Regions from separate parts of the Homo sapiens genome. Here regions 2 and 3 are each reported to be linked to region 1. Evidence: microRNA targets listed by miRTarBase, many of them from high-throughput screens and not tested one by one. Region 1 holds a microRNA gene; each other region holds the end of a gene's coding sequence.
The links. The annotated mature microRNA hsa-miR-1231 reads GUGUCUGGGCGGACAGCUGC and lies in region 1 at 994-1,013, shown strand. An mRNA with a match to its seed (bases 2 to 7 or 8) in the 3' UTR can be bound and repressed. Matches are read on the target gene's strand: a 7mer-m8 pairs with bases 2 to 8, a 7mer-A1 pairs with bases 2 to 7 and ends in A, and an 8mer does both.

Region 2: the mRNA of FOLR1 is a reported target of hsa-miR-1231. Seed matches in the 3' UTR shown: 7mer-m8 at 2,811-2,817.
Region 3: the mRNA of TMEM184A is a reported target of hsa-miR-1231. Seed matches in the 3' UTR shown: 7mer-m8 at 621-627.

Annotation. Positions count from the first base shown.
Region 1 is chr1:201,807,622-201,810,867 of GRCh38, forward strand. It overlaps MIR1231 (microRNA 1231), which reads left to right and starts at 990; the gene lies at 990-1,081. NAV1 (neuron navigator 1) reads left to right here. Exons shown (of 34, transcript NM_001389617.1): 22 at 332-528; 23 at 797-989; 24 at 1,082-1,250; 25 at 1,543-1,640; 26 at 1,821-1,916; 27 at 2,325-2,484; 28 at 2,902-3,137. All of the region lies in intron 2 of IPO9-AS1 (IPO9 antisense RNA 1), which reads right to left.
Region 2 is chr11:72,195,859-72,199,104 of GRCh38, reverse strand. FOLR1 (folate receptor alpha) reads right to left here. Exons shown (of 4, transcript NM_016729.3): 4 at 2,806-3,208. The coding sequence ends at 2,928. FOLR1-AS1 (FOLR1 antisense RNA 1) reads left to right here. Exons shown (of 3, transcript NR_199595.1): 2 at 369-592. Among named protein-coding and RNA genes, the nearest start is that of FOLR1, 5.3 kb to the right of the region's middle.
Region 3 is chr7:1,544,383-1,547,628 of GRCh38, forward strand. TMEM184A (transmembrane protein 184A) reads right to left here. Exons shown (of 9, transcript NM_001097620.2): 9 at 1-2,799. The coding sequence ends at 2,570. Among named protein-coding and RNA genes, the nearest start is that of TMEM184A, 10 kb to the right of the region's middle. RefSeq lists an enhancer at 38-187.

The DNA of each region.
Region 1 (3,246 bases):
CAACATCAGCAAGCTAGAAGATTCTGTTCTTTCTCTTGGTCCTAATTTCCTTTCTTTCTTTCTTTCTTTTGAGATGGAGTCTCACTCTGTTGCCAGGCTGGAGTGCAGTGGCTCGATCTCAGCTCACTGCAACCTCTGCCTCCACGGTCCTAATTTCTAGGCAACTCTTCTGTCCGTATTCTATGAATCAAGTGAAGTGTTATAGAGGGTGGCTTAATTAAAGTAAATCCCCCGCCTCCAGCTCTCTCTGTCTCAGAAGTCTCAATCCAGTCCTCCCCCATCCCAGTAGTGGAGTCCTAATGTCCCTCTACCTGGATCTGCTTTTTTCTAGCTTCGAAGTTCCTTCAACAAAGCGTTCAGTATAAAAAAGGGGCCCAAGTCAGCTTCCTCATACTCGGATATAGAGGAGATTGCTACACCCGACTCTTCAGCCCCCTCATCCCCCAAACTACAGCATGGTTCTACAGAGACTGCTTCACCCTCCATCAAGTCCTCCACCTCGTCCTCCGTGGGCACTGATGTCACCGAGTAAGTGCTCTTTGGCTCCCTGCCACCCAGCCTGTTACCAGTGTAAGCTGTGGGCTAGAGTTGACAGGAGGCCATTAGACCTTAGACAAGCAGTACTTATTACTGACCTCTCCCTGGGCATATGAGACCAACAGATGGACCTTTCTTCTCATGCTGATTGAATATCAATGGGCAGGAGAAGCCAAGACCACCAACCATGCCTCTCAATATTCTCTAGTAACTCTAGTGCTTCTTCATGTAGCCTGGCTTGACTCTTGCTATCTTACAGGGGCCCTGCTCACCCAGCCCCCCACACTAGGCTGTTCCATGCAAATGAGGAGGAGGAGCCAGAGAAGAAGGAGGTATCGGAGCTGCGCTCTGAGCTATGGGAGAAGGAAATGAAGCTTACAGACATCCGCTTGGAGGCCCTCAACTCTGCCCACCAACTGGATCAGCTTCGGGAGACCATGCACAACATGCAGGTCAGTGTCTGGGCGGACAGCTGCAGGAAAGGGAAGACCAAGGCTTGCTGTCTGTCCAGTCTGCCACCCTACCCTGTCTGTTCTTGCCACAGTTGGAGGTGGACCTGCTGAAAGCAGAGAATGACCGACTGAAGGTAGCCCCAGGCCCCTCATCAGGCTCCACTCCAGGGCAGGTCCCTGGATCATCTGCATTATCTTCCCCACGCCGCTCCCTAGGCCTGGCACTCACCCATTCCTTCGGCCCCAGTCTTGCAGACACAGGTACCTGTGTGGGAGAAGAATCTATAAGGGTGAAGGGAAGAAAAGGGCTTATTTCACTGTTACACCATTCCACTTGCTTTGGTCAGGGCGGTAACAATGCCGAAGCCAAGCAGATGCCAGTGTCCTAAGACACTGAGTTGTAATGGTCCTTCAACCTTAACTACTTTTGAGTTTGGGACCTCCATTCCTTCTCTGTGGCAAACAGAGTTATTTTGGAAAGGATAATGATGGGAAAGTTTAGGAAAGGCTGCGGGTACTCCTAAAACCAGTTGGTTCTTTTCAATCCCCACAGACCTGTCACCCATGGATGGCATCAGTACTTGTGGTCCAAAGGAGGAAGTGACCCTCCGGGTGGTGGTGAGGATGCCCCCGCAGCACATCATCAAAGGGGTAAGGAACTTCAGGGAGAGCCACAGTGGGAATGAACAAATACTGTTACATTTATCCAAGAAAATCTGGACCCTGGGTACCTCCAAAACCAAAGAACTCAACTCCTAAGGCCTTTAGGACCCCGGTTCATGGAGTCATCTGCAGTGAAGCTCAAGAGCTTTTCCTTCCTTGGCCTTACAGGACTTGAAGCAGCAGGAATTCTTCCTGGGCTGTAGCAAGGTCAGTGGAAAAGTTGACTGGAAGATGCTGGATGAAGCTGTTTTCCAAGTGTTCAAGGTAAAGGGATACCTGTACTCAAAAAGGTTGTTCATCCTCTCGTGGAATATATATACTTTTTTAGAGACAGGGTCTCACTCTTGCCACCCAGGCTGGAGGGCAGTGGCGTGATCACAGCTCACTGCAGCCTTGAACTCTTGGGCTTAAGTAATTCTCCTGTCGCAGCCTCCTGAGTAGCTGGGATTACAAGCATGTGCCACCATGCATGGCTTCTCACAGGATATTAAACCGTCCAGGCACTGGGATCCTGGGGACCTTTGAGGCTTTATGGAGAAATGCTACCTAGGAAAAGCATATGCTCTGCACTTTCTCCATCTATTTCTGTTTCCTCTGATAGACATTCTTTGTTGTGGCTTTTACACCTGTGTTTGTATATTTTCTTCTTCTTCTGCCTGTCTTTTCTGTCAGGACTATATTTCTAAAATGGACCCAGCCTCTACCCTGGGACTAAGCACTGAGTCCATCCATGGCTACAGCATCAGCCACGTGAAACGAGTGTTGGATGCAGAGCCCCCCGAGATGCCTCCTTGCCGTCGAGGTGTCAATAACATATCAGTCTCCCTCAAAGGTCAGTCTTTGTCTCTTGGGGTGAGGTGGTGTGGCATGAAGGCAGGGACAGGATCATCAAATAATCCATCATGCATTCATTCACCAAGAACTCACTGAGAAGGTATAATATGAAGATGCTTAAGTAATGTGAGATATAAAAAGATGAGTAAGACCCAGTCCTAACTTTGGCTCCCAGGGACACTTTTGCTAAGCCTTGGCTTCTTGCTTCACTCCTCACCCCCAGCTCACAGCATGTCCCTAAAAAGAAGATCTAAGTTTTCAAAACTAGGGGTTAAGGGACTCTTATGGAACCATGGGGCAAGTGGCTCTGAGTTTCTTCAGGGGGCTCCTAGATAAAGAAAGAAAAGCCCTTTAGGATCCCTTGCTATCCTCAAGACCCTGGTCAATACTCATGCTTTCTGGGGTGGGGGTTCAGGTCTGAAGGAGAAATGCGTCGACAGCCTGGTGTTCGAGACGCTGATCCCCAAGCCGATGATGCAGCACTACATAAGCCTCCTGCTGAAGCACCGGCGCCTCGTCCTCTCGGGCCCCAGCGGCACGGGCAAGACCTACCTGACCAATCGCTTGGCCGAGTACCTGGTGGAGCGCTCTGGCCGTGAGGTCACAGAGGGCATCGTCAGCACCTTCAACATGCACCAGCAGTCTTGCAAGGTGGCTGCCCCCCGACACCCCTGCCAGCCTTTGTTCATGCCTCAGCCTTCCCTAAGACCCTTCCTCGGCCCCTTCCTGCCTCATTGTTCCCTTTTCCTCACCTCTGCCT
Region 2 (3,246 bases), not on the chromosome of region 1:
CAAGTGATCCGCCTGCCTCGACCTCCCAAAGTGCTGGGGTTACAGGCATAAGCCACCATGCCCGGCCTGGGTTGATGTAGTTATTTGCATAGGTTTAAAGAGTTGATCCTCCTTCTTACTAGGATCTAACCAAAAAATTAAATTTGTAACTATGACCGTGCATGAAATAGAAACTGACCAGAAAACAACGAGGTCTGTTGCAAACCTTGTGATTCTCCTGTCCTTCCAAGTACATGATAAGATCATGTTTTCCTGGCCTTCTTGAATTTAGGCATGCTCATGACTTGATTTGGCCAATGATATAAGTGACAGGTGGAAATTTGAAGAGCCTTATGGAATTCGCTAAGTTCCCTCTTCCTGTTTCATAGAAGATGGAGCCTCCATCAGCCTGGGCCTGGAATGAGAAGCAGAACCCCCTGGCTGCTAATGTAGTCCAGGAAAGAGAAATGAACAGAATCCCTCTGATAACCCACATTAAACATTGCAGCTTGAGCAAGAAATAAACATGATTTGTGGCCAGGCACAGTGGCTCACATCTGTAATCCCAGCATTTTGAGAGGATCACTTCAGTGCAAGTTCAAGACCAACCTGGGTAAGATAGTGAGAACCTCCCTGTCTTTACTATTGTATATATATAATACATATTTTATATGTGTATATATTAGCTGGATGTTGTGGCTCACAGCTGTAGTCCCAACTACTCAGGAGGCTGAGGCAGGAAGATCACTTGAGCCCAGGAATTTGAAGCTGCCGTGAGCTATAATCATGCCAGTACTCCAGCCTGGGTGACAGAGAGAGACTCTGTCTCTAAACGAAAGAAAACAAACAAAAAAAACCCAAAAAGGTGAGTTGTATGATGCCACAGAAATATTACGAATGTTACTGTAATATAACCTGGCTTAATACAAAGGTTACAAACTATATTTAATGGAGAACGCTGCCTTAAAACCCTTCAGGTTATTGGTTTGGAACCTGCTTAGGAGTCGAAGTTTGGGTTCCCATCCTAGCTCTGGCAGAGCAGCTTAGGCCCAGCTCCTCTGGTCAGCCATGGACCCATTATCCCTTCAAGACACACATATTTATTCACTCCATGATGGGAAAGAGCATGTCCTTTCTTTTTTTTTTTTTTTTTTTTTTGAGGCGGAGTTTCGCTCTGTTGCCCAGGCAGGAGTGCAATGGTGTGATCTCTGGTCACTGCAACTTCTGCCTCCTGGGTTCGAGAGATTCTCCTGCCTCAGCCTCCCGAGTAGCTGGGATTACAGGTGCACACCACCACGTCCGGCTAAGTTTTGTATTTTTAGTAGAGACAGGGTTTTGCCATGTTGGCTAGGCTAATCTCGAACTCCTGACCTCAGGTGATCCGCCCGACTTGGCCTCCCAAAGAGCTGGGATTATAGGTGTGAGCCACTGTGCCTGGCCAGGCAATGTTCTTTAATTTATGTGTCTGTTTCTACATATGGAAAATGCAGACAGTAGTATCTACATGTCATCGGTATAAACAGTTTAGGATAGTGCCTAGCAGAAAATGCTTTGTGGGTATTAGCTGTTAGTGCCATATGGCTCTTGCTGCCACCCTTACCCTCTTCCCAGCAACCCATCCAAAACATGCTGGGTACAGCCATTCCCACCTCTTCTTTTGGAGAGCTGAGCACAGCACAGGAATCAACCCTGGGAAGCTTATGTTCAGTTTAAATGATAAAATCCTGAGCTAGGCTGGGCATGGTGTCTCACACTTGTAATCCCAGCACTTTGGGAGGCTGAGGTGGGTGGTTCACCTGAGGTTAGGAGTTCCAGACCAGCTTGGCCAACATGGCGAAACCCCATCTCTAATAAAAATACAAAAATTAGCCAGGCATGGTGGCCCACACCTATAGTCCCAGGTACTCGGGAGGCTGAGGCAGAATTGCTTGAATGTGGGAGGCAGAGGTTGCAGTGAGCTGAGACTGCGCTGGGTGTGGTGGCTCACGGTTGTAATCCCAGTACTTTTGAAGTCTGAGATGAAAGGTTTGCTTCAGGCCAGGAGTTTGAGATCAGCCTGGACGACATACCAAGATCTCCTCTTTATAAAAAAATGTAACAATTAGCCAGGTGGGGCTGGGCGCAGTGGCTCACGCCTGTAATCCCAGCACTTTGGGAGGCCAAGGCAGGCGGATCACTTGAGGTCGGGAGTTCAAGACCAGCCTGACCAACATGGAGAAACCCTGTCTCTACTAAAAATACAAAATCAGCCGGGCATGGTGGTGCATGCCTATAATCCCAGCTACTCTGGAGGCTGAGGCAAGAGAATCACTTGAACTTGGGAGGAGGAGGTTGCAGTGGGCCAAGATCATGCCATTGCACTCCAGCCTGGGCAACAAGAGCGAAACTCCATCTCAAAAAAAAAAAAAAAATTAGCCAGGTGTGGTGGCACATGGTTGCAGTCTCAAGTTGAGAGGCTGAGGTGGGAGGATCACTTGAGCCCAGGAGGCAGATGTTACAGTGAATCAAGGTCATGCCACTGCACTCCAGCCTGGTGACAGAGTGAGATCCTGTCTCAAAACAAACAAAATATTCCTGGGTGAGACCCTGTCTCAAAACAAACAAATGAAAAATTCCTGGGCTTGGCTCTAGATTGGAGCAATAGTAAAAAATGAAATTGAGAGCTACGAATGTCTCCTAAGTTAGAAAAATAGTTAAGTATCAGGCTAGTTTATAGCAACTGTCAGAGCTAGGAATTGGCCCAGTCTCACTGGTTTCAATCAATGGGAATTGGAAAACAAAACAGTCACGTTCCCATTCATATCCAAATAATTCTCAAGACACATGTGCGGTGTCTGGTTTATTCAAAGTGGCTGTCAGAGGCCCGACCATGGAGCAGGAACCAAATAGTTGGGAGCTGTGGGGCTGAACAGGGCAGGGATTTCCAGGTATCAGAAGGTAAAAGGAGGTCAGCTGAGCAGCCACAGCAGCATTAGGGCCAGGCTAAGCAGGAAAGGCCAGGCTGCCCAGGGCCCAGCCCCACTCATGGCTGCAGCATAGAACCTCGCCACCTCCTCATTGGGGTTGCCCTGGGCTGGGTCGAACCACATCTGGATGCAGCGGCCACTCCCTCGGCTGTAGTTGCTGACCTTGTAGGAGTGAGTCCAGATTTCATTGCACAGAACAGTGGGTGTGGGGAAGTAGAAATGGAAAGGTTGGCAGGCAGCTCCCACTGCGCACTTGTTAAACCCTGTAGAGAGGAGGGAAGACCTTTAGCCACTGGGCCCG
Region 3 (3,246 bases), not on the chromosome of region 1:
AAGGATACTGAGGCCAGGAGAGGCTAGAGAGCTTGGCGGGTGCGCTGGGCCCAGATACGCGGCTCCTGCCTGCCTCATGGCCTGCTCCTCTGTCGGGGCCTGTCACCGGGAAACCCCTTTTTTAGCAGCGATGACGACACTGGAACCACGCTAGTCTCCGTCCCTCCCGCTCACATGCGCCCACGCTCCCCCTCGAGGCAGGTTGAGCCCCGGCCTGGACCGCCCCACGCTGCCTTCCGTCCACGCAGAGCGGGCTCGGCCCTCAGGGCTTTCCTTCGAGTCGTGTTGGAAAGAAGCAGAAGCAGCCTCACCCGTGGGGCGGAGGCGTCTGAGGGTCAGGAGGCAGGGAGGAGAGAGGGCCTCTGTGGAGCCGGCTGCCTGGTGTCCAAGTCCCTGCTCTGTGACCTCAGGCAACTTGCTCCGTCTCTCTGGGCTCGGTCGCTGTCCCAGCTGGCTTGAGCGTTGAGCATGTCAGTTTCCTGGCACAGTCCTCGGCTGGTCTGAGGGGGCATTTGGCGGAAACTGACTTCTCCCCTGTCCTAAAGTGCAGGCCTGAGGTGTTGCTGACATAGGGGCTCAGCCCCTGACACCTCAGCCTCTGCCGCCCGGAGCCCAGGCGGTGTCTGGGTCTCCAGAAAGGGAGCCCTCGGCCACACACCCTCCAAACGCAGATTTGAGCAACTTGACCCCTATCGGGGTGGCCTTCCCCACGGCAAGGGCAGAGCAGGCCTAGAGCCCAGCCAGTGCCCCCAGCCTCCAGAAACTGCCCCTCGGCAGCAGGTCCCTGGGGACCTGCTGACAGAGTGAGACACGGGGGCCGCCTGGTGGGTCTATTCCTGTGGGGATCCAATAAGACAGGTGGGCGTCTTTGCAGCCGTGCAGGGAGGAGCTCAGCCTATCTTATCAGGCAGCCGGGCTGGGCCCTGCAGACCCACTGGCCTTGGATCCCCATGTCCTCAGCCCAGGAAGCAAGAGGCTGGGAGCTGGCCCTCTCTAGCCCGGACTCCACTGGTCTGTGCCCGCCCTGCTGAGTCCCTCGGAGACCCCAGGTCCCGCTGTTCCTGGTGACCGTGGCCATGGGTGGGGGGCAGCACGGGTGGGAGCCGCGGTCCCGGGGTGGTGCCCACTGGAGCTTCCTGTCTGCTCTCCACGCCCAGTGCCTGAGCCCCCCAGGCCTTGCCCACTTCTGCTGCCCCTGCCCCAGCCCCCACCCAACCTGTGCTGCGGGCCCCAGACACACAGAACTGACTGCCACCTGCAGGCCGGGTCACCGTACTGTCCCCTGACGGGCCCTGGGCCTGGGGGGCGCCCTGCAGTGACACCCCTCGCCCTGGGCCAGCCGTGTGTCCTCCCAGAAGCCCCCTTAGTCCCTGGGCGGCTACTGTTCTTGCGGCCGCGATTTCCGAGGCCACTTGCACGCCTCCAGCTTCCTGCGGGCAGGGCACGCGTCCGAGGCTCCTCAAACCCAGGGCCCCACCTGGCACGTGGAGGAAGAAGAGAAGGGCAGGAGGCAGGTGCCCAGGTGGGAGCCCCCTCTGTGCCCCCTGGGAGTGTCCCCCCCGCCCAGGTACTCAGGGCCCTGCCTTCGTGGCCTTGTCCGCTCGCCGCGGGTGGGGCTGGCACAAGGCCCGTTTTGGAGGAAGTGGAGGCTCCCAGGAGAAAGGCAGTGGCTGTGATCGCACAGCCCAGGCTCTGCCCTGCACTGCCCTGGACCACGAGGCTGCCCACCCCAGACAGGTGGGACCCCTTTCCCGCATGCAGACTCTGAGCAGCAGCCTCCTGTGACCCCCACCGCGTCCTGCTCCTCAGGCTCATGCCCTGCGGGAACAGAAGCCAAGACCCGGTAGAAAATCCAAGGTGTTTAAATATAAATAAGAGCGATTCCCACAGCCCCACGGTGCTGGCCAGCCTCACAGGTGCCCGCTGGTTCTGTGACCCATCCCAGGCACACGCTCCCCTGGCTGGGCGCCTGGCCAGGGCTCCCCTGTGGCTGGCGTGTGGAGACACGTGGGCCCTTCTCCACGTGCCCACGAGGGCCGTAGCAGGCTCCAAGGAGGCCCAGCCCCGGCCAGCCTGTGTGGACCCCGCCGGCCTGCGGCGCCCGGAGCTGCTGACTGTGTCAGAGCCCGGCTGCCCAGCGCCCCGGCGCCCCTCCCTCCAGCTGCCCAGCCTGGGATCCGTCCGCTGTCTGTCTCCTGAACCAGGGAGTCTGACCCACTCACAGCTCCCATGGGGTCCGTGCAGCCAAGGCCCCGCAGCCACACTCACTCTCCGCCCCACAGTGGCTCCTGGGGCTGATGGCTGGGTGATCCCAGGGGGTCCCCAGGCTCTTCCGATTGGCTCAGGTGCCCTCTCCTGCGGTGGCGGGCCCACCTGGGTGCCTGCCAGGGCCATCAGGTGCCCTGACCCCCTGGCTGGAGGGAGGATGGGAAGTGGGCTCCGAGGGCCTCACAGGTGGGCTCTCAGGAGAGGCCCCACCTTTGGCAGGAGTTGGTGGGTGGGGGGACCCTGTTCTTCCCCAGAGGCCTGGGCAGCCTGGGTCCCTACAGCACTGGCAGCCCAGGCCCCCCTACAGGTCCTCCGAGGGGATCAGCATCCGCTTCTCCAGGCTCCGGCTCTTCCTGCTCCCGCCGGAGCCGCCGCTGGGGTGGGTGCCGGGCCTGGGCGCCTCGTGCGTGGCCTGCTGCGTGTAGTGCTGGTAGGCGGGGGAGAAGTTGTGGATGGCGTCCTGCACGATGTCCTGGGGGCTCACTGTCTCCCTGATGCCGCTGGAGATGCTCTGCATGGGTGCCGGGGGGGCTGGGGGAGGGCAGTGTATGAGCCCCACCATCCCCCCTGCACTCCAGCTCCCCGGACAAGTCCCCTCCCAGGATGCCCAGGGCTGTAGCTCCTGCATGTCCAGGTCTGGCCTCGGCCAGCAGAGGGTGGCCCCAGACCCCTGGACCCCAGCCCAGCTTGCTCCACCCAGCACCGGGCCCGTCCCTGGCCAGACCCCTGACAAGGACCACGTCCCCTAGAGCTTCCGAGGGGCTCCAAGCAGCGGAGTACGCCTTTGGCTGGCCTCGGGTGGGCACCCTGGTCTCTCCACAGTGACTGATGAGAAGCCGGCAGGCCACAGGCTGTCTCCGCCCTAATAGGGGGTGTGCCTGGCAGGGGACACCCATCCCCCATCACCATTGGGGTCCGGGACCGCCTGGACCCCACACAGCCCAGGTGCCTGTCCGGAGCCGGATGCCCTTTGCCCGT